3 linked regions of the Homo sapiens genome follow. The protein of the gene in region 1 purifies or fractionates together with the protein of each later gene. This does not show direct contact. Each region holds a gene or a part of one and is shown in the gene's direction. Other genes may lie near its edges.

Region 1 (7,026 bases):
AGGCTGGAGTACAGTGGCGCCATCTTGGCTCAGTGCAGTCTTCCCCTCCTGGGTTCAAGTGATTCTCCTGCCTCAGCCTCCCAAGTAGCTGGGATTATAGGTGCCCGCCACCACACCCGGCTAATTTTTGTATTTTTTAGTAGAGATGGGGTTTCATCATTTTGGCCAGGCTGGTCTCAAACTCCTGACCTCAGGTGATCTGCCCACCTTGGCCTCCCAAAGTGGGTATTATATGCGTGAGCCACTGGGCCCAGCCTAAAAATTTTTTTAATTTTTAGGCCGTAGTCCCAGCTACTTGGGAAGCTGAGGTGGGAGGATTGCTTGAGTCCAGTTCAAGGCTGTAGTGAGCTGTGATTGGGCCACTACACTCCAGCCTGGATGACAGAACAAGACTCTTTCTCTCAAATAAAAAACAAAACAAATCTGAAGCCTGTCTCTTAGTGTCCACTCATAAATTATAAAATTTAAACATAAAAAAATGTGGAGCAGTATACTGTGTACTATTACATTTTTGGACTACTACATTCCACTGGACTGTTTTTTTTAACCTTTCTGAATCTGTTGCCATATTTGTCAAGTACCTACTCTACTTAACTCCCGTAGTTGTGCAGATTACATGAGATATACGTGTTAAAATGTGTGATAAATTGAAAGAAAAAAAACCATAATTGTTATTTTTTTTGTTGTGTAGCTGCCTATGTAAGTGTTGTATTTTTTTGTTGTTTGTTTTTTCCTAGTGTAGCTTTGACTGGAATGATGGTTTGTTTGATGTGACTTGGAGTGAGAACAACGAACATGTCCTCATCACCTGTAGTGGCGATGGCTCGCTGCAGCTCTGGGACACTGCCAAAGCTGCAGGGCCACTGCAAGTCTATAAAGAACACGCTCAGGAGGTAGGAGGGAAATCTTTCTGGGCTGATTATTTTTCTTTCTTCGACTTTGGTTGAAATCCATTTGGGGATGGACACATGGAGAAATATCTTCAGGGGACAAGTTTAAACGTTAGCATTTCTTATACATACTAGATGTCACTTATTATTTGATTATTCAAACATAAAGTACCTCTTGGCCTAAGGAGTGGGGAAAGAAAAGAAAAGGTCAGTCTTCTCATTAGGCAGAAAGAACACCTCCAGCAGTGTACTCTGGCACCATTTCCTCCTGAGAGGCCCATCACTTTCTTTGTGCTCTAAGAATGTGCTTGCCACATGGTGCCTTAAGGTAGAGGTAGGTGGACTTTTCACATAGACATCACAAGATTGCCTTTGGGGCTTCAGTGAGATTCCCGAGGTGTTTCAGAGTATATTGGAGCAAGAGCATAAAATACTGAGTATGAGGCAGAACTTACTGAAGGGATTTTATATCTAAATCTGGTTCATGTGTCTAGATTTTGTGTGTGTGTATGTATAGCATAGAAAATAGTTTGGGCTTCAGTTGTACTAACATACATGTATATTTTCAGTGAACATAAAGACATCCTCTTTTTGTGTTTTTACCTTAAATGTTTTAAGATTTTCCTTAAGGGAGCAGTACATCCTTCAGATGAAAACTTGCTAATCTACTTTCAAATTTTTGTCCACCACAGTGCCTGGCCCGAGAAGGCCCTCAATAAATGCTTATTAGATGCAAGAATATCAGTCTTTTGTGGTAAAGATTAGTTATGTGAGGGGTCCAGATGTTTTATAGCTGTAGCTATTGACAATCAAGATTTCTAAGATTGTTACTGAAATAATGAAAAATTTTAGTTTCTATTTTAATTATGATAGCTATTTGAATAAATGTAGTTGTAAATTACTATGTTTTCAGGGAATTACTGAATATTAAGACAATTTTGGTAAAGGAGAAATTTTAGTTTCAGGATAATCAATGCACGAATCTCTACAGAACAGTATGTCCAAAATTCAGATACTTTTGTGGAACCTGTGTGAATTTGTGTGTGTGTGTGTGTGTGTGTGTGTGTGTGTGTGTGTGTGTGTCAGGGTCTCACTCTGTTGCCCAGGCTAGAGTGCAGTGGTGCAATCTTGGCTTACTGCAACCTCCACCTTCTGGAATGGGCTCAAGCCATTCTCATGTCTTAGCCACCCGAGTAGCTGGGATTACAGACGTGCGCCACCGTGCCCTGCTAATTTTTGTATTTTTAGTAGAGACGGGTTTCACCATGTTGGCTAGGCTGGTCTTGAACTCCTGGGCTCACATGATCCACCTGCCTTGGCCTCCCAAAGTGCTGGGATTATAGGCGTGAGCCACCGTGCCCAGCCAATTTTTGTGTGTGTGTGTTTTTTTGTTGTTGTTTTTTTTTGTAGAGATGGAGTTTCGCTATGTTGCCCAGGCTAGTTTTTGTGATGTTTGACATCTTTTTATACCACTTGTATTATAATGTATTTCTTTTCCTTCTTTCTTTTTTAAAAAATATTTTTCTTTTCAGAAGTTTTTTTTTTCCTTTTTCTTAAATCTTTGGTGCCTTTTATTATCTATATAAATTCAAGGATGATAACTGACATCATAAAATAATATAGCTAGTTAAGGTAAATTCAATATATTGACTTAATGTTTTTCTTTCAATCAAGTAAAGTCGTTGCTTCATTTATCCTAAAACAGTAATATTCATGAAACAATGGGGTTGATGGCTACTTTAGTATGTACATTTATTTGTTTTTAGTGTACATTGAGATAAGTAAGTAATGAATAAAATAAATGTATGTACCAGTTAAAATAATCTCTGGTGTAACTACTCTCTGGAAAATACTGTTCTAGGATATCCTGGATGGATGCTCACTCAGTCTTTACTTCCTGTCAGTGAAAGTAAATTTCACTTTCTCTTGAGATAACTTATTTGACTTTTAGGTTGTTCTGATTATTAAGAAACTGCTTCTTGTAATCCCAACTCTACCTTCTATAGCAACCAACTGCTGCTTTTAGTGTCTTTCTCTGAAGTGGCAAGACCAGGTCCAGCCCCTCTTGTCCAGGAAACCTCTTGAAAATAGCCATCGTGCTCTCTTCCAGACTGTGCACTTGTCATTTCATTGTCCTGTCCTCAGATGACATGATCTGTACGTCTTTCATCCTTCTGATAGCCTCCTTTGATAATCCTGTTTTTCAACTCCCCTTTCAACATATACCTAATTTATTCCAGAAATGTGATGAAGGGCTAAGCTTTATAAGATTTTACCACCATAGTCTTGAGCCCCTAGCTCTAATAATATTACCTAAAGTGGCTATACATTGTTCTCAGCCATGTCTTAGTGTTAGGTTACTTTGAGTCTGCTAGTAACACACTTACCTCTTTTGTTATTTGAACTGCTATTAAACCAGTTTTACATCATTCTGTGATTTTGCAGCTGATTTCTTGAACCGAAGACACACTTCTGTTTTTTAATTTTTTAAATTTGTTTTGCGTACTGCTATTCTAGTTAGACTTCCTCGTTTTCTTTTCAAATGCACTTTTTGGTAAGCGTTTGTATCAGGATGCCTTGAATGTTAGTGTAATAGAAAACAATTAAATGGCTTCAACAGTCAGAGTTTACTGTTTCACATATTTTGCTTGGTTATGTGAAAAATAAATGAAGATAACCTTTTTAGGTATTTGTTACAGCAGCACCCCTAATTCTTGGCACCAGTTTCTGCCTCAGTCTGTTCAGGCTGCTGTAACAAAGTATTATAGACTGGGTGCCTTATAAAGAACAGAAATTTATTTCTTACTATTCTGGAGGTTGGAAGTCCAAGGTCAGGGTGCCCACATGTTTGGGTTCTGATGAGGGCCCTCTTTTAGGTCAAAGACTACTGCTGTCTTTTCATTGTATCTGCAGGTGGTGGAAAGAGAATGAGAGAGGTTTGGGAAATCCCTTTTATAAGAGCACTAATCCCATTCATGAGGGCTCTACATTCATGACCTAATTACCCCCCAGAGGCCCTACGTCCTAAAACCATTACACTGGGGGGTTAAGATTTCAACATGTGGGTTTTGTGGGGATATATTCAGTCCATTGCATATGCCAGATACTCAAAAATACTTAAAAGGATTTAAGCTCAAATGAGAGTTTTAAGGAGCTAGTAAATATTTGTTGAATAAATTAATAAATGAGGCTGAGTGCAGTGAGTCATGCCTGTAATCCTAACACTTTGGAAGGTCGAGGTGGGCAGATCACTGAAGGCCAGGAGTTTGGGACCAGCCTGGCCAACATGGCGAAAACCCCGCCTCTACTAAAAATAAAAAAATTAGCTGGGTGTGGTGGTGCACACCTGTAGTCCCAGCTATTTGGTGGCTGAGGCACAAGAATCATTTGAGCATGGGAGGTGGAGGTTGCAGTGAGCTGAGTTCGTGCCATTGCACTCCAGCCTGGACAACAGAGTGAGACCCTGTCTTAAAAGAAAGTTATTAAAAAAAAAAGTTGATAATGAACATAGCCAATTTCTGTTTTTTTTTTTTCCACCAGTATGTTCAGGGAAGCTGTGTTGTGAAATAGAAGAGCAACTAATGGGTCATTTTCTTCTGTGGAAGAGAGTATATAATAAAGACGTATAGCATGGTTTTAGTCAATCTTGGATTTGAATCCCAGCTTTGTAAGTTACCTGTTGTGAGACCTTGCGTATGTCACATATTTTTCCTAAACTTGAGTGTTTTTATTTGCAAACTAAGTTTATTAGTAGTCTGTATCACAGACCAGCATTGAATAAATATGAGCTAGTATTATTATTTGCTCTTATTATAATAGGGTTTGAAAAATGTAAAACAAGTTAGAACTTTTCCAGTTACCCACTTTACCACTTGATGGCTATGTGTCCAACAGTCAATTTTCAAGTTGTCAGATGAAGCAAAAAAGAGAAATCCAAGATTTAGATATATTTTAGGCTTTGAGGAGTGAAGGTCTTGGTGAAATGAAAAGAAAGAAAAACATGGACATTATCTGTGTGAATGGTTGCTAAACCTAGCATCGAAGTAGGAATCAAATTCTTCTGTCTATTGTTTAACTGGTGTCTGCAGAGGTCATTATGTCTTTTGAGTCCCATAAAATGCCTTTGGCTTTGCTTATTCTAATGCTGCTGAATATATAATAAAAATTTTTAAAAGTTCAGTGAGAATAGAAAAATAAGAGTGAATTGACAATTTTATTTCACTGCTTTCTGACTTAAAACACTGTGCTACTGAGAGTGAGTTAAAGTGACTTTAAAGATGACATAAATCAATGTAATATATTAATTTCTAATTTTCAGACTAATGAGTTGGCTTATCACAATTTAAAAATGAGTTAAAATTTGTTCTCATAGTCAAATAACAAGGTTTATCAATTTGCTGAATTTTTATAACATATTTGATCCATTGAGGTTTTTGAGCATTGCTTATAAAAACTTATTTTTGACCTAAGTATACAACTATTAGTATTCTGTTATGGAGGAAATGTATTTGCTTATACATTTCAAGAGTTAAAATCTTGTTTACTTTAAAAAATGAATCAATTATTTACTTTTTGATAATGATAGAAGCTGAGAAGTCAATAATGATAGGTATTGTATTAGTCTGTTTTCACATTGTTATAAAGAAATACCTGAGAGTGGGTAATTTATAAAGGAAAGAGGTTTAATTGACTCACAGTTCCACATGACTGGGGAGGCCTCAGGAAACTTAAAATTATGGCAGAAGGTGAAGGGGAAGTAGATAACCTTCTTCACAAGGCAGCAGGAGAGAGAGAAAGAGAGAGAGAGAAAGCAGGGGAAACTGCCACTTTTAAAGCCATCAGATCTTTTGAGAACTCCCTCACTATCACAAGAACAGCATGGGGGAAACTGCCCCCATGATCCGATCACTTCCTACCGGGTTCCTCCCTGGACACATGGGGATTACAATTCAAGATGAGATTTGGGTGGGGATATAAAGCCAAACCATATCATTCCACTCCTGGCGCCTCCCAAATTTCATGTCTTTTTCACATTTCAAAACCAATCATGACTTTCCAACAGTCCCCCAAAGTCTTAACTTATTCCAGCATTAACCCAAAAGTCCAAGTCCAAAGTCTCATCTGAGACAAGGCAAGTCCCTTTTGCCTATGAGCCTATAAAATAAAAAACAAGTTAGTTACTTCTAAGATACAGTAGGGCTATAGGCATTAGCTAAATGTTTCAAATGGGAGAAATTGGCCAAAACAAAGGGGCCACAGGCCCCATGCAAGTCTGAAACCCAGCAGTGCAGTTACTAAATCTTAAAGCTCTGAAATGATCTCCTTTGACTCCATATCTCACATCCAAGGGGTAGGCTCCCATGGCCTTGGGCAGCTCTACCCTTGTAGCTCTGAAAGGTGCAGTCCTTATGGCTGCTTTCACTGGCTGGCATTGAGTGCCTGTGGCTTTTCCAGCTGTACAATACAAGCTGTCAGTGAATCTACCTTTCTGGGGCCTGGGGGACAGTGGCTCTCTCCTCACAACTCCAGTAGGCAGTGCCCCAGTGGGGACTGTGTGGGGCCTTCAACCCCACATTTTCCTTCTGTACTGCCCTAGCAAAGGTTCTCCATGAGGGCTCCTCCCTTGCAGCAGACTTCTGCCTGGACATTCAGGTGTTTCCATACATCCTCTGAAATTTAGGTGGAGGTTAAACTCTTGTCTTCTAAACTCTTCTTGTCTTCTGTGTACCCACAGACCCAACACCACATGGAAGCTGCCAAGGTTTAGGGCTTGCACCCTCAGAAGCAATGGCTTGAGCTGTACCTTGGCTCCTTTTAGCCATGGCTGGAGCTAGAGCAGCTGGATGCAGGGCACCATGTCTTGAGGCTGCACAGAGCAGCAGGGCCACTCAGGCCCACAAAACCATTTTTCCCTCCTAGGCCGCTGGGCCTGTGATGGGAGGGGCTTCTGCAAATGTCTCTGACATGCCTTGGATACATTTTTCCCATTGTTTTGGCTATTAATATTTGGCTCCTTGTTACTTATACAAATTTCTGCAGCAGGTTTGAATTTCCCCCCAAGAAATAGGTTTTTCTTTTCTACCTCATGGTTAGGTTGCAAATTTTCTGAACTTTTATGCTGTGCTTCCCTTTTAAA
Region 2 (7,026 bases), on another chromosome or scaffold:
TCCCGGGTTTATGCCATTCTCCTGCCTCAGCCTCCCAAGTAGCTGGGACTACAGGTGCCCGCCACCACGCTCGGCTAATTTTTTGTATTTTCAGTAGAGACGGGGTTTCACCGTGTTAGTCAGGATGGTCTCTATCTCCTGACCTCGTGATCCGCCTGCCTCAGCCTCCCAAAGTGCTGGGATTACAGGCGTGAGCCACTGTGCCCGGCACTCTCAGTCATTATTAAAAATATTGAACACATGCCAAGTCAGAGCCTTGGTATCCGTATTGATACTGATCTGCACTCCCTATCCTAATTTTTACCCCAAGAATAGCTCCTCCATTCAGGGAGGGGTAGACAGGAAAAACAAAACGGGGGCTATGGATCTTTTGACACTTTCTCAGAAATAGTTCACAGACTGGTGTGCATTCCTCCCTTCCTGTCACTTTTCCCATTTGGCCCCTTGCCCAACGTGGCACCCTACATACTAGACTTAGCACTCATGGTAACCTTGGTCCCGCTCTTCTAGGACCCCAACGCAGACACTGAATGGAATGACATCTTACGCAAAAAGGGTATCTTACCCCCCAAGGAAAGTCTGAAAGAATTGGAAGAGGAGGCAGAAGAGGAGCAGCGCATCCTCCAGCAGTCAGTGGGTGAGTTCACTCGCTTTCCTCTGCACCTGTCTGGGTTAGGAGATGGCTCCCTAAGCCTCTGACTGCCCTGCCAGGAGACAGGTTGGAGTGCCAGCATGGACACTCTGTGTCTGTGGGACCTCAGACAAAACACAGGGCGTCTCTCACCTTCACCTTCCTGAGCCATAGACTTAGGGGACTTCAGATATGTCCCACAAGTCCTTGTCCATGTCACATGAGCACTGAAGAAAATACTTCTTTCTGCTTTCTGGTCTGTGATTCCCTTTGATAATGTCATGGAAATTTGTTCAAGGTTTTTAGTACTTGTATTTTCCTGAGCATATACTTTATTTTCTGTGGTTTCATTGAGGATATTAACTAAAAATTGCTTCATTTGGGGAGGCATAAGATGTTTGCAATGTGTGGGAGTCTGAGGGGGGTTTTCTCAAAGGCAGTTGTACTGTCTGAATTGGAGTCCCTTGGAGTGCTGGTAACCCCACCCACCTAGTGTTTACTGAAGCAGTCTCTGGAATGAGGCCCAGGAATCTGCATTTTAAACAAGTGCCTTAAAGGATTCTGATGCGTGTCATAGTTTGAGAAGCACTGGTCCCAGGGACTAGTACTTTTGTCCTCTGTTGACACATTAGAGCTAATTTAGAGAAGGATTTATTAGAAAGTATCCAGCGAGTGCTTACTGCATGATTATCATTGTCAGGTGCTTTTCTGGGGTTGGGGATTTAGCTATGCATAAGCCAGAGACAATTCTCTGCCCTCAGAGAACCAACATTCAAGTGGGGGAGACAGACAATAAACAATAAAGAAAATAAGGCAGTAAAAGGGACTAGAAAGGGTTGGAGGAGAAGCAGGCTCAGAGAGGGCCTCACTGAGATGACATTTGCATGGACCTGAAGGAGGTGAAGCTGGCATTTGGGTAAAGACCTGAAGGAGCTGAAGAACACATTTGAATAGACCTGAGGGAGTTGTTGAGACCTGAAGGAGGTGAAGAAGACATCTGGGTATTCCTGAAGGGGGTGACGTGAGCGAGTGAAATATGGGCCCTGGCATGGCTGGGAATCCCTGAGGAGCTGGAGGCGCTGGGGGAGAGAGTTCAGAGCAGCCTCAGCAGACCCAGAAGCTTCTAGTAAGGACCTTGGCCTTTACACCTAATGAGGCAGGAAGCTTTTGGATGTTTAAACAGAAGAGTGACATTTTCTCTTTTTTGTTTTTTTTTTGAGATGGAGTCTCGCTCTCTTACCCAGGCTGGACTGCAGTGGCGCAATCTTGGCTCACTGCAACCTCCGCCTCCCAGGTTCAAGCGATTCTCCTGCGTCAGCCTCCCGAGTAGCTGGGATTACAGACATGTGCCACCACGCCTAGGTAATTTTTTGTAGCGATGAGGTTTCACCATGTTGGCCAGGCTGGTCTCAAACTCCTGACCTCTAGTGATCCGCCCACCTCAGCCTCCCAAAGAGCTGGGATTATAGGCGTGAGCCACTGCACCCAGCCAAGGGATGCATTAACTTGGAGATCCCTATTAGACAAATAGCCACATTAAGAGGGCCCTTGGGTATGTTTTTCTCTACATTAGAGAAGTCTGGGCTGGAGGCCTATACTTTGGGAGTTGTCAGCATATTGATAGCACTGAAAGCCATGAGATTAGATGCAATCACCGAGGGAGTGGGTGTGGATAAAGAAGAAAAGTAGTCAAAGGTTTGAGCCTGGGGAATTTTAATCAGCAAAGGGTTCAACAGTAGGGCGGCTGGCTCACTCCTGTAATCCCAGCACTTTGAGATGGGCAGATCACTTGAGGTCAGAAGGTTCAAGACCAGCTTGGCCAACATGGTGAAACCCTGTCTCTATTAATGATACAAAAATTAGCTGGGTGTGGTGGCACACGCCTGTAATCCCAGCTACTCAGGAGGCTGAGGCAGGAGAATTGCTTGAATCTGGGAGGCGGAGGTTCTCAGTGAGTCAAGATCGCACCATTGCACTCCAGCCTGGATGACAAGAGTGAAACTCTGTCTCCAAAAAAAGGAAAATAAGCGGGGCAGGGTGAGGCGGAATAGGAGAAGAGAGGGGAGGAGGATCTGAGGGCTTGGGTAAAATGTTGTCAGTCAATAAATTGGGATTACAGGTGTGAGCCACCATGCCTGGCCTCTCAGCTTCTAATGTAGTGTGGTGCCTTAAGTAATTTTTGTTTAGGTAGGCTAAGGATCTGGTGTTGTGTGCATATCTTTAGGAGAAAAGAGAGGGGAAAAAAGAAAAATACATGTTCGTTCATCTTTTTAAATTTTTGCTTTTTGCCAATGTAACCAAATTCAGTGAAAACATATGAAGATATGACTTTGGAAGAGCTGGAGGATCATGAAGACGAGTTTAATGAGGAGGATGAACGTGCTATTGAAATGTACAGGTAAGCGCCACCCAGAGGGGCTGTTTGTTTTTTTGTTGTTGTTTGTTTTGTTTTGGTTTTTTTTTTGGCGTGGCAATAAAATGTGTGGGCTGAGCATGGTGACTCATACCTGTAGTCCCAACACTTTGGGAGGCTGAGGCAGGCAGATCGCTTGAGCTCAGAAGTTTGAGACCAGCCTGTGAAACCCCGTCTCTATAAATAATACAAAAACTAGCTGGGTGTGGTGGTGAACGGCTATAGTTCCAGCTACTCAGGAGCCCTGGAAGTGGAGGTTGCAGTGAGCTGAGACTGTGCCACTGCACTCCAGCCTGTGTGACAGAGCCAAACTCTGTCTCAAAAAATAAAATGAAATGTGTGTCCTTCAAAAAATTAATTTTCAGCTGAAACATCTAGGAGCGACTGCAATTAAATAATATTGTGAATTTTAGCAAACTGATCTTAGATTTTTGCCATAAGACCAATAAATAAACCTGGGCTTTTACAAGGATTGCCTTCTAGACGATGTGTGTGTACACGTGTTTGTGACGTAAGATGTTTCTCTCCTTGTTTTGTGCAGACGGCGGAGACTGGCTGAGTGGAAAGCAACTAAACTGAAGAATAAATTCGGAGAAGTTTTGGAGATCTCAGGGAAGGATTATGTTCAAGAAGTTACCAAAGCTGGCGAGGGCTTGTGGGTCATCTTGCACCTTTACAAACAAGGGTGAGCTGATCTTCCACTCCATCTATCAAATGTTAATTTGAATTTATGTCTTCAGGATCTCAGGCGTTACCTATATCAGAGGGTTAAGAAATTTTTTTTTCTGGGCCAGGCGCAGTAGCTCACACCTGTAATCCCAGCACTTTGGGAGGCTGAGGCAGGTGGATCATGAGGTCAGGAGATCAAGACCATCCTGGCTGACACGATGAAACCCCGTCTCTACTAAAAATACAAAAACAAAATTAGCTGGGCGTGGTCGCGGGCGCCTATAGTCCCAGCTACTTGGGAGGCTGAGGTGGGAGAATGGCATGAACCCGGGAGGCGGAGCTTGCAGTGAGCCGAGATTGCGCCACTGCACTCCAGCCTGGGCGACAGAGCGAGACTTTGTCTCAGAAAAAATTTTTCTGGTACTGAGTTTTTTGTGTTTTTTTTGCTGGTTTGCCCAAACCTTATTACTTAATTTTTTTATCTTAAGACTTTCAAGTTAATAATTTGTGACTAATATGAATGCCTTTGTTAAAGTATAGCAATGAAGACTATGCTTTTCTGTTTTTGAAAAGGAATTCCTAAGTTATTTATTCCTTTACAGGAACTCTGACATTTCAACATTCTATGTAATGAATTTATCTCATAGATGGCAAGGTTGGCCTTTACAGTAGTAATTGCCTGAACTGTGTGATACTGAGGGCCTCTGATTTTTCTCAGCTCTCCAGTCTTGTCTTAAACTGTAGAGTCCAGTGCTTATTTAGGAATTTCTTTTTTTTTTTTTTTTTTGTTTGAGACAAAGTCTCACTCCATTGACCAGGCTGGAGTGCAGTGGCATGATCTCGGCTCACTGCAACCTCCGTCTCCCAGGTTCAAGCGATTCTCCTGCCTCTGCTCCTGAGTAGCTGGGATTACAGGCGCCTGCCACCGCACTCAGCTGATTTTTGTATTTTTAGTAGAGACGGGGTTTCACCATCTTGGCCAGGCTGGTCTTGAACTCCTGACCTCATGATCCACTCATCTTGGCCTCCCAAAGTGCTGGGATTACAGGCGTTAGCCGCTGCACCTGGCCAGGAATTTCTTTAAAGCAGAAAACGTTTTCTGACATTTCATACTTTCTAAACCTTCAGCGTTTTCTCATTCAACCTTATAAGAAATGTATAGCAATTTTATCTTTTACATTGAAGCTGTTTTTCTGACTTGTTTTGTCAAATAAATTGGACTTTGGATTTGTGTTCTTCACTTTCCCTCAGCATATTAGGAAGTTTTTAAGAAATGTTAATTCAGCTGGGCATGGTGGCTTACACCTGTAATACCTGTAATCCCAGCACTTTGGGAAGCCATTGCGGCCGGATCTCGAGCTCAAGAGTTCAAGAGCAGCCTGGGCAACGTGGTGAAACCCTGTCTTTACAAAAAAAAAAAAAAAAAATCAGCTGGGCATGGTGGTGTGTGCCTGTAATCACACCTCCCGAGTAGCTGGGATTACAGGCGCCTGCCACTGCACCCAGCTAATTTTTGTATTTTTAGTAGAGATGGGGTTTCACCATCTTGGCCAGGCTGGTCTTGAACTCCTGACCTCATGATCTTGGCCAGGCTGGTCTTGAACTGCTGACCTCATGATCCACTCACCTTGGCCTCCCAAAGTGCTACTTGGGGGGCTGAGGTGGGAGCATTGCTTGTGAGCCGAGATCACACCACTTCACTCCATTTAGCCTGGGTGAAAACAAGACCCTATGTCAAAAAAAACATGTTAATTCATCTTAGCTAGCAGCAGAATTACTTGTGAAACTGTTACAAGGTTTTACTTAGGGTAGAAGGGTCATTGAGCTTTGTTCTGTATAAATGTAGGATCATAATTGCTTCTGTTTTCTATGTGTGTTTTATAGAATTCCCCTCTGTGCCCTGATAAATCAGCACCTCAGTGGACTTGCCAGGAAGTTTCCTGATGTCAAATTTATCAAAGCCATTTCAACAACCTGCATACCCAATTATCCTGATAGGAATCTGCCCACGATATTTGTTTACCTGGAAGGAGATATCAAGGCTCAGTTTATTGGTCCTCTGGTGTTTGGCGGCATGAACCTGACAAGAGATGGTAAGGGCTCTGGGAGACAGGCGGGGCAGTGAGAGATGGGAGGCGCATTTCTGTTGGAGAGAGTGTCTATTTCCTGGACTCCTGTTACGATGGTGGGTCAAGTTCACTTCTGCCTGTGTATGAGGACGGAAGCACGTTTAATCTCTCATCTTAGTTGCGTAATCAGGAACAGTTACAACTGGGCTCTACTGATTCTTAGTTCAAGGAAGGCGTGATAGACTTAAATATAAACATTTTTTATATTGGTGTGGAATATATTTTGTCTCTACAGTTGGATGTTTTTGTAGCTTGAAATCACAACATTCACTTTTGCTTTAATTCACATGAACACAGGGAGACGTTAATGTATGTATTTGTATTTTTCTACAGAAACATTCTCAGTTGAGTATGTTAGTAGCTTTTACATTTATTTACTTAGTTATTTATTTTTTGAGACAGAGTCTTGCTCTGTCACCCAGGCTGGAGTGCAATGGTATGATCTTGCCTCACTGCAACTTCTGCCTCCCAGGTTCAAGTGATTCTCCTGCCTCTGCCTCCCAAGTATCTGGGATTACTGGCACCTACCACCACGCCCAGCTAATTTTTGTATTTTTAGTGGAGACGGGGTTTCACCATGTTGGCCAGGCTGGTCTCAAACTCCTGGCCTCAAGTGATCTACCCACTTCAGCCTCCCAAAGTGCTGGGATTACAGACGTGAGCCACTGCGCCCGGCTAGTAGCTTTTATTTATTTTTTTTGAGACAGAGTTTCACTCTTCTTGCCCAGGCTGGAGTGCAATCACGTGATCTCGGCTCACTGCAACCTCTGCCCCCCAGGTTCAAGTGATTCTCCTGCCTCAGCCTCCCTAGTAGCTGGGATTACAGGCATGTGCCAACATGCCTGGCTAATTTTTTTGTATTTTTAGTAGAGACAGGGTTTCTCCATGTGGTCAGGCTGGTCTCAAACTCCTGACCTCAGGTGATCCACCCGCCTCAGCCTCCCAAAGTGCTGGGATTACAGGCGTGAGCCACTGCGCCTGGCCAGCTTTTAAATTAAATTAAAATTTTATTTAATTCTGCCTGTTAGCTCGGAAGGATGTGGTTTTTGTTTGATTGTTTGTTTTTTTGAGATGGAGTTTTGCTCTTTCGCTCAGGCTGGAGTGCAGTGGTGCGATCTTGGTTCACTGGAACCTCCACCTTCTGGTTTCAAGCAATTCTCCTGCCTCAGCGTCTCAGGTAGCTG
Region 3 (7,056 bases), on another chromosome or scaffold:
GAATTGTTTGAAACTGTGAGGCGGAGGTTGCAGTGAGCCGAGATCGCACCACTACACTCCAGCCTGGGTGACAGAGCGAGACTCTGTCTCAAAAAAGAAAAAAAAAAGGTTGTTTAATCTGATTTTTAAATAAGAAAGACATTCTGTTGCAACAGATGGAACACCCTGCCATACACACACCACCACCACCACCAGAGAAGGAAAGTTAAGGTGAGAGAGAAAGAAAGAGAAACAAGGGAGGGGAAAGGACAAAAGGAGAGGGAGCAGAAAAGGCACAAGGGAAGAGAAAGGAAGGGAAGGAAAAGAAAAATAAAAGAATTCAGGAAATGAAGAAAAAGAAAGAAAAGACAAGACAGATGGGCAAGCTGTTTATCTCAAACAGTCCTCATATGGTTTGGTGTCATTCAAAATCATCTCTGGACCTTTAATTCTTATAGAAAAAATAAAGTAACAGGACAAATTTGTTCTAAATTTACAAAAATATTGGTAGAAAAAATCTAACATGAGAAACTCATTGTAAGACCAAATCTTGTTTTGCCTCTGTTATGATTTGGAAAAACTGTAAGAGTGGATCAAGTCTTGGAACTCATGCTTCAAGGAATTTAATCATTTATTTTATTTATTTATCTAGCTATTTATTTATTTATTTTTTTGTGGAGATGGAGTCTCATTCTGTCTCCCAGGCTGGAGTGCAGTGGCATGATCTCAGCTCACTGCAACCTCCTTCTACCGGGTTCAGGTGATTCTCCTGCCTCAGCCTCCCAAGTAGCTGGGATTACAGTAGGCATGCTCCACTCAGCCCGGCTAATTTTTGTATCTTTAGTAGAGATGGGGTTTCACCATGTCGGCCAGGCTGGTCTTGAACTCCTGGCCTAAAATGATCTGCCTGCCTCAGCCTCCCAAAATGGTGGGATTACAGGCATAAGCCATCGTGCCCGGCCTATTTAATCACTTATATATGAATTTCATTCAGTTACTTCAAAATTTTAAATATTTTTAAAAATAGCCTATAAATCTGGTTGGATCAAGGTTTCCCTTGCTTAAAGATAAATGCTTTAGCCGTCACAAGACAGCTCATGGGTTGTTTTCCCCACTAGGGAATACCTTTAATATACTCTACTGATAAACAGCCCAACAAAAACCTTACAGTAGCGGTAAAATACCTTTAAAACTATAAATTACATACAGTATGCTCATTAAACAGAAACTTCATTATCCACATCATTCCACATTTCTTTTTTTTTTTTTTGAGACGGAGTCTCACTCTGTTGCCAGGCTGGAGTACAGTGGCATAATCTCAGCTCACTGCAACCTCCACCTCCTGGGTTCAAGCGATTCTCCTGCCTTAGCCTCCCCAGTAGCTGAGACTACAGGCGTGCGCCACCATGCCCAGCTAATTTTTGTATTTTTAGTAGAGACGGGGTTTCACCATATTGGCCAGGATGGTCTTGATCTCTTGACCTCGTGATCTGCCCACCTCGGCCTCCCAAAGTGCTGGGATTACAGGTGTGAGCCACCATGCCTGGCCCATTCCACATTTCTAACAGGAAAAATGAGTGGTTCTGTTGGATATTATTAGATAGCTAACTCATGTACACATATTCCTGACAGATGCAAGCTACATTCCCAACAAAGACATCACTATATCTATACAACCAGGAGACTGAATATATTAAAAGGTCTGAATTTGAGACCAACGTGGGCAACATAGCAAGACCCCATTTCTACTTTTTTTAAAAAAGGTTGAATATGGCCGGGCGCGGTGGCTCACGCCTGTAATCCCAGCACTTTGGGAGGCCGAGGCGGGTGTATCACGAGGTCAGGAGATCGAGACCATCCTGGCTAACACGGTGAAACCCCGTCTCTACTAAAAAATACAAAAATTAGCCGGGCGTGGTGGCGGGAGCCTGTAACCTGGGAGGCGGAGATTGCAGTGAGCCGAGAATTGCGCCACTGCACTCCAGCCTTGGCAACAGAGTAAGACTCCGTCTTAAATAAATAAATAAATAAATAAACCAGTGTCGGGCAGTTCTTTATAGCAGTATGAACTGCCTGACACTGGGTTATTTATTTACAGCAGTATGAAAACGGACTTATTAATACAGTATTCTTGAATGGGTGTGTGTTTGTGTGTGGTATTTTTTGACTCCTCTGAGGGCCTCAGCAAACAGCCTCTCTGAAAACAGGCAGGTACAGAAATTTGCAGACAATTTCAGGTGGTCCTAGAACCACAAATTAAGATCCCCTACCCCAAATTAAGAGCCCTATTTTAAACAGTGTATCTTTCTAGAATATTTTCTATGATTCAATTTACCCAAAGCTTTCTATGAGCAACTTCACGGTTGTGTATTGGATACTTCAACAAGGGCTCAGAATTTGAAATCATTTTAGGTTTTAAAAAAGTTGCAAAAACAGACGACAAAGTATGCCTGAGGAAAAAGAAAAAAAAGTTGCAAAATATCATAGTATGGCTTTACCCTGGAAGAAGAAAACAAAGTTGCAAAAATAGGATAGTGCTTCCCTAGATTCTTCATCTAATAGAATCTCCAAAAGTTCACATCTTACATAGTATAATTATTAAAACTATTGATACAATACTACTAATATGAATTAATAGGCCTTATTCAAATTTCGTCAGTTGTCCCATTCATGTCCTTTTTATTTTTCTTTTTTGAGACGGAGTCTCAGTCTTGACCCCCAAGCTGGAGTGCAGTGGTGCGATCTCAGCTGTCTGCAACCTCCGCCTCCCGGGTTCAAGCGATTCTCCTGCCTCAGCCTCCGAGTAGCTGGGATTACAAGTGTGCACCACCATGCCCGGCTAATTTTTGTATTTTTAGTAAAGACGGGGTTTCGCCATGTTGGCCAGGCTGGTCTCGAACTCCTGACCTCAGGTGATCTGCCCGCCTCGGCCTCCCAAAGTGCTGGGATTACAGGAGTGAACCACCGCACCCGGCCCCATGTCCTTTTTCTATACCAGGAGCCAATTCCGGATTTCACATTACATTCCTGCTCTGTCACCCAGGCTGGCCTCCAAGTCCTGGGCTGAGCGATCCTCCCGCCTCAGCCTCCTGCGTAGCTGGGACTACAGGCGCGCGCCACCACTCCTGGCTGCCGCTTCTTTAAAATGGTGAAACCCCGTCTCTACTAAAAATAGAAAAAATTAGCCGGGTCTGCTGGCGGACGCCTGTAATCCCAGCTACTCTGGAGGCTGAGGCAGGAGAATCTCTTGAACCCGGGAGGCGGAGGTTGCAGTGAGCCGAGATCGCGTCACTGCACTCCAGCCTGGGCAAGAAGAGCGAAACTCCGTCAAAAAAATATATATATATATTTTAATCTATGCCCTGTACTTGAGGGATTTGTGCTCTCGGGCAAATTACCGAACGTCTCTGAGTCACTTTTCCGTCTAATAGACGTGATGCGATGAAGAACCAATAAAAAACACACTTTGAATGGCTTCGGAAACTTCGAAGGGAAGTGAATACATTTTTCTTTTCTTTCTTTCTTTTTTTTTGAGACAGTCTCGCTCTGTCGCCCAGGCTGGGGTGCAGTGGCGCGATCTCGGCCCACTTCAACTTCTGCCTCCTGGGTTTAAGCGATTCTCCTGCCTCAGCCTCCCGAGTAGCTTGGATTACAGGCGTCGGCCACCAGGCCCGGCTAATTTCTGTATTTTTAGTAGAGACGGGTTTTCAACGTGTTGGCCAGGCTGGTCTTGAACTCATGACCTTAAGTGATCCGCCCGCCTCGGCCTCCTAAAGTGCTGGCATTACAGGCGTGAGCCACCGCGCCCGGCCTGTGAATACATTTTTCTTATTGCTTGACGCTGGGTCATACAATTCACTTTTTTGTTGTGCAGATTAAAACCAAAACAAAGCAATTAGGAGAGCGTTGTTGTCGAGGTGTTTTGTTCCAAGGTAGGACCCGTAGCTTCTCCCCTGCCCCTCAGCTGGGAGTAGCGGCTTCTGATTGGACAATGCGCGTCCGCCACGACGCAGGAAGGCCGCCTCATTGGTCCGCGCTGTCGGGCTTCGGCGGCTTTTCTCTTTAGCGCTCAGGGCGCTGACCCACTGCTCTTCCTCTTAAGAAAGTGCTCCATTCCTTCCGGCGCCCGGAGCTGCTGGCCCAAAGGGATCCGGAGCGAGCTAGGGCAGGTAACTGCATTGGGGTCCACCGGGAAGCGGCAGCAGCTGCGGACTACGGGAGGGAGTGGGGTTGGCGAGCTTGGGTAAAACTGCCCCTTCTTCGCTCTGTCTCGACCCCCAAGTTCTCCGCGTCTTCCTCGTCCCCTTTCCTCCTCTGGCCCCACCTCCCCCGGGCCCTTCCAGCCTTCCCCCAAAAGCTCCACACACCCCTCTGCTTCCCGTCCGGGGGCCCCGCCTCCTCTGCTCGCGTCTCCAGGGGGCCCGCCCTCGTCTCCTCCCCGCAGCGGTCCCTCCTTTAGGAGCGCAACTCCTTCCCTCCCCTCCGCCGCTGCTGTGTCCCCCGCTTGGCCCATTCCTGGGCCTTAAGTTTGGTTTTGTTCCTTCTTGGCACCTCCACCTGTCTCTCCATGATCCCTGTCTCCTTTGCATCTGACTGCTGGAGTCCTCCGATTCTCCCGTTGACCCAGGCTGCGAGTTTAGCAAATTGTGCAGCGGCATTGTGCTGGGCTTTGGGGATAGAGGTAGTGACTAGAGGTCCCTACGTTCAAGAACTCCTTGCCCGGTGGGAGAGAGTCACTTTGTAAATGGAGTATGATAGGCCCGGTGATAAGTCTTTAAGGCAGCCGCATTCCTGCTGAATTCTCAAGCAGGCCTCTGGGGGCTAAGCTGCATCTTTTCATCAGAATGCCCTTGGCTACTTCTGATGCAGAAGCCTGGTCCTTTATATTTTTAGTTTTTATTTTTTTTTGAAACAGAGTCTCGCTCTGTCTCCCAGGCTGGAGTGCAGTGGCGTGATCTTGGCTCACTGCAACCTCCGCCTCCCGGATTCAAGAGATTCTCGTGCCTCAGCCTCCTGAGTAGCTGGGAAAACAGACACCCGCCACCACACCTGGCTAATTTTTGTTTGTTTGTTTGTTTGCTTTTACTAGTAGAGACAAGAGTTTCGCCATGTTAGCCAGGCTGGTCTCGAATACCTGGTCTCAAGTGATCCTCCCTCCTCGGCCTCCCTAAGTGCTGGGATTACCTGCGCGAGCCCGGCCATCATAGTCCTTTAAACCCTTGGGAGTTATTAAAATCTTTGTATGGGCCCTTCTTTTAAACTGTCAGAATAGGTAGCGTTTCAGAGACCATCCATCCAAGCCCTCAGGGTGTTGTCTGGGAAGTTGAAGGCTGGTGACAGAGAGTGATTGCCTAGACAAATAGTGACTCAGCATTGTACTCTTGATGCCTCTTTTTGGGGTTTTTCCTGAGGATACTTAAACAATTTTTCAATTAGGCAGCAGTCTTAGCTGGTGGGAAAACTAAAAGCACAGATAAAACCACTAGTCAGTAGATTCCTCCAAGCCAGTGCAGGTGGCTTGTACACTTAACTCAGACTAGAGTAATTTATACCTCAGGCTCTTGGAGTCAGGAATCCCTGGGGTCTGGTCCCAGCTCCGTCATTCGCTGTTAAGCTTGGTGAAGACTCTTCCTTTATCTGAGCTTCAGTTTTACCTTCTGTTAAAGAGTGTGATAAGCCCTAACACACAGGGTAACGGTAGGGATTTGTTAAGATTTTGGTTATGAAAATAATCACTTTAGTGTCCTGGAAATTGTAGGATCTCAGCACAGGCGAGCCCCCTATGCTTCAGATTCATGTCTGTCTGGCTCAAATCAGCAAAGAACCTGATATGCTTTCTTTTTCCAGACACCATGACCACCCTTGATGATAAGTTGCTGGGGGAGAAACTGCAGTACTACTATAGCAGCAGTGAGGATGAGGACAGTGACCACGAGGACAAGGACCGAGGCAGATGTGCCCCAGCCAGCAGTTCTGTGCCTGCAGAGGCTGAGCTGGCAGGCGAAGGCATCTCAGTTAACACAGGTACTGAGAAACCCTGGGCTCTGGGAACAGGCTTAAAAAATGTACATTAAATACATATTAATTAAATACATATTAATAAATTAATTCTCCTGATCACTTTTAACTCTGGTCCCACTTTCAGAGGTAACCTAGTCTTTTCATTATGTGTGCTTCTAGCCTTTTAGTGCACAATACAAATGTATGTGCATAGCAGCATGGTAATGAACACAGACTGGCCTGGATTTGAATCCTGCATCTCGTATTAACAGTTTGATATCTCATAAATCACAAGTATGAGTATATGGGTAGTGCAAATTCCTAAAAATGGCATATTTACACTTGTACATTTTAATATTGTCAAATTGCTGTCAGTTGAGTTGAGGTGGCAGTAGTTTATAGTTTAATCAGCAATCTGTGTTTCTCCGTACACTTGACCTCCTACTGTGTTATGAAACTCCTTGATCTTTGCTATTGTAGTAATTCATTGTAGGTTTATTTCCGCCCCCACCACCTTTTTTTTGTTTTGTTTTGTTTTTTTGTTTTTTAAGACAAGTTCTCACCTTGTTGCTCAGGCTGGAGTGCCTTGGTGCCATAATGGCTCACTGCAGCCTCAACTTCCTGAGCTCAAATGATCCTTCTGCCTCAGCTTCCATGAGGTTCCTCTCTTAAAAAGCTGGGACCACGTGTAGCTGGGACCACAGGCGCTTGCCACCGTGCCCAGCTAATTTATTTCTTTATTTTTTGTAGAGATGGGGTCTCACTTTGTTGCCCAGGCTGGCCTCACACTGCTGGCCTCAAGCGATCATCTGCCTCAGCGTCCCATAGGCATGAACCAATGCACTGGGCCCATATTTATTTTTAAGAGGGAACCTAAACTTCTTTTCATAATTTTAAGAGAGATTTTTATATCCTTTGCTCATTTAAAAAATTAGGTGTTTTTTTTCTTCTTGGGGAGCTATAAAGGAAATTAATCTGTGATATGAGTGGTAAATATTTCTTTCAGTTTGTTGTTGTCTTTTGACTTTATATTCTTTTGTTCTTTTCCTGGATGAAAAATTTTATTTTTATGTACTT

The links.
Region 2: the proteins of PEX7 (region 1) and PDCL3 purify together in Homo sapiens (affinity purification with mass spectrometry; 4 studies listed by BioGRID and IntAct, with this or other methods). This does not show direct contact.
Region 3: the proteins of PEX7 (region 1) and PDCL purify together in Homo sapiens (affinity purification with mass spectrometry; 4 studies listed by BioGRID and IntAct, with this or other methods). This does not show direct contact.

The regions. Positions count from the first base shown.
Region 1 is NC_000006.12:136,825,577-136,832,602, forward strand, and holds part of PEX7 (peroxisomal biogenesis factor 7), read left to right. Parts: intron 1-742; coding exon 743-893; intron 894-7,026. UniProt on the Homo sapiens protein: Receptor required for the peroxisomal import of proteins containing a C-terminal PTS2-type peroxisomal targeting signal. Specifically binds to cargo proteins containing a PTS2 peroxisomal targeting signal in the cytosol.
Region 2 is NC_000002.12:100,565,993-100,573,018, forward strand, and holds part of PDCL3 (phosducin-like protein 3), read left to right. Parts: intron 1-510; coding exon 511-637; intron 638-2,938; coding exon 2,939-3,029; intron 3,030-3,585; coding exon 3,586-3,729; intron 3,730-5,597; coding exon 5,598-5,806; intron 5,807-7,026. UniProt on the Homo sapiens protein: Acts as a chaperone for the angiogenic VEGF receptor KDR/VEGFR2, increasing its abundance by inhibiting its ubiquitination and degradation.
Region 3 is NC_000009.12:122,825,563-122,832,618, reverse strand, and holds the start of PDCL (phosducin-like protein), read left to right. Parts: upstream 1-4,030; 5' UTR 4,031-4,148; intron 4,149-5,826; 5' UTR 5,827-5,831; coding exon 5,832-6,003; intron 6,004-7,056. UniProt on the Homo sapiens protein: Acts as a positive regulator of hedgehog signaling and regulates ciliary function.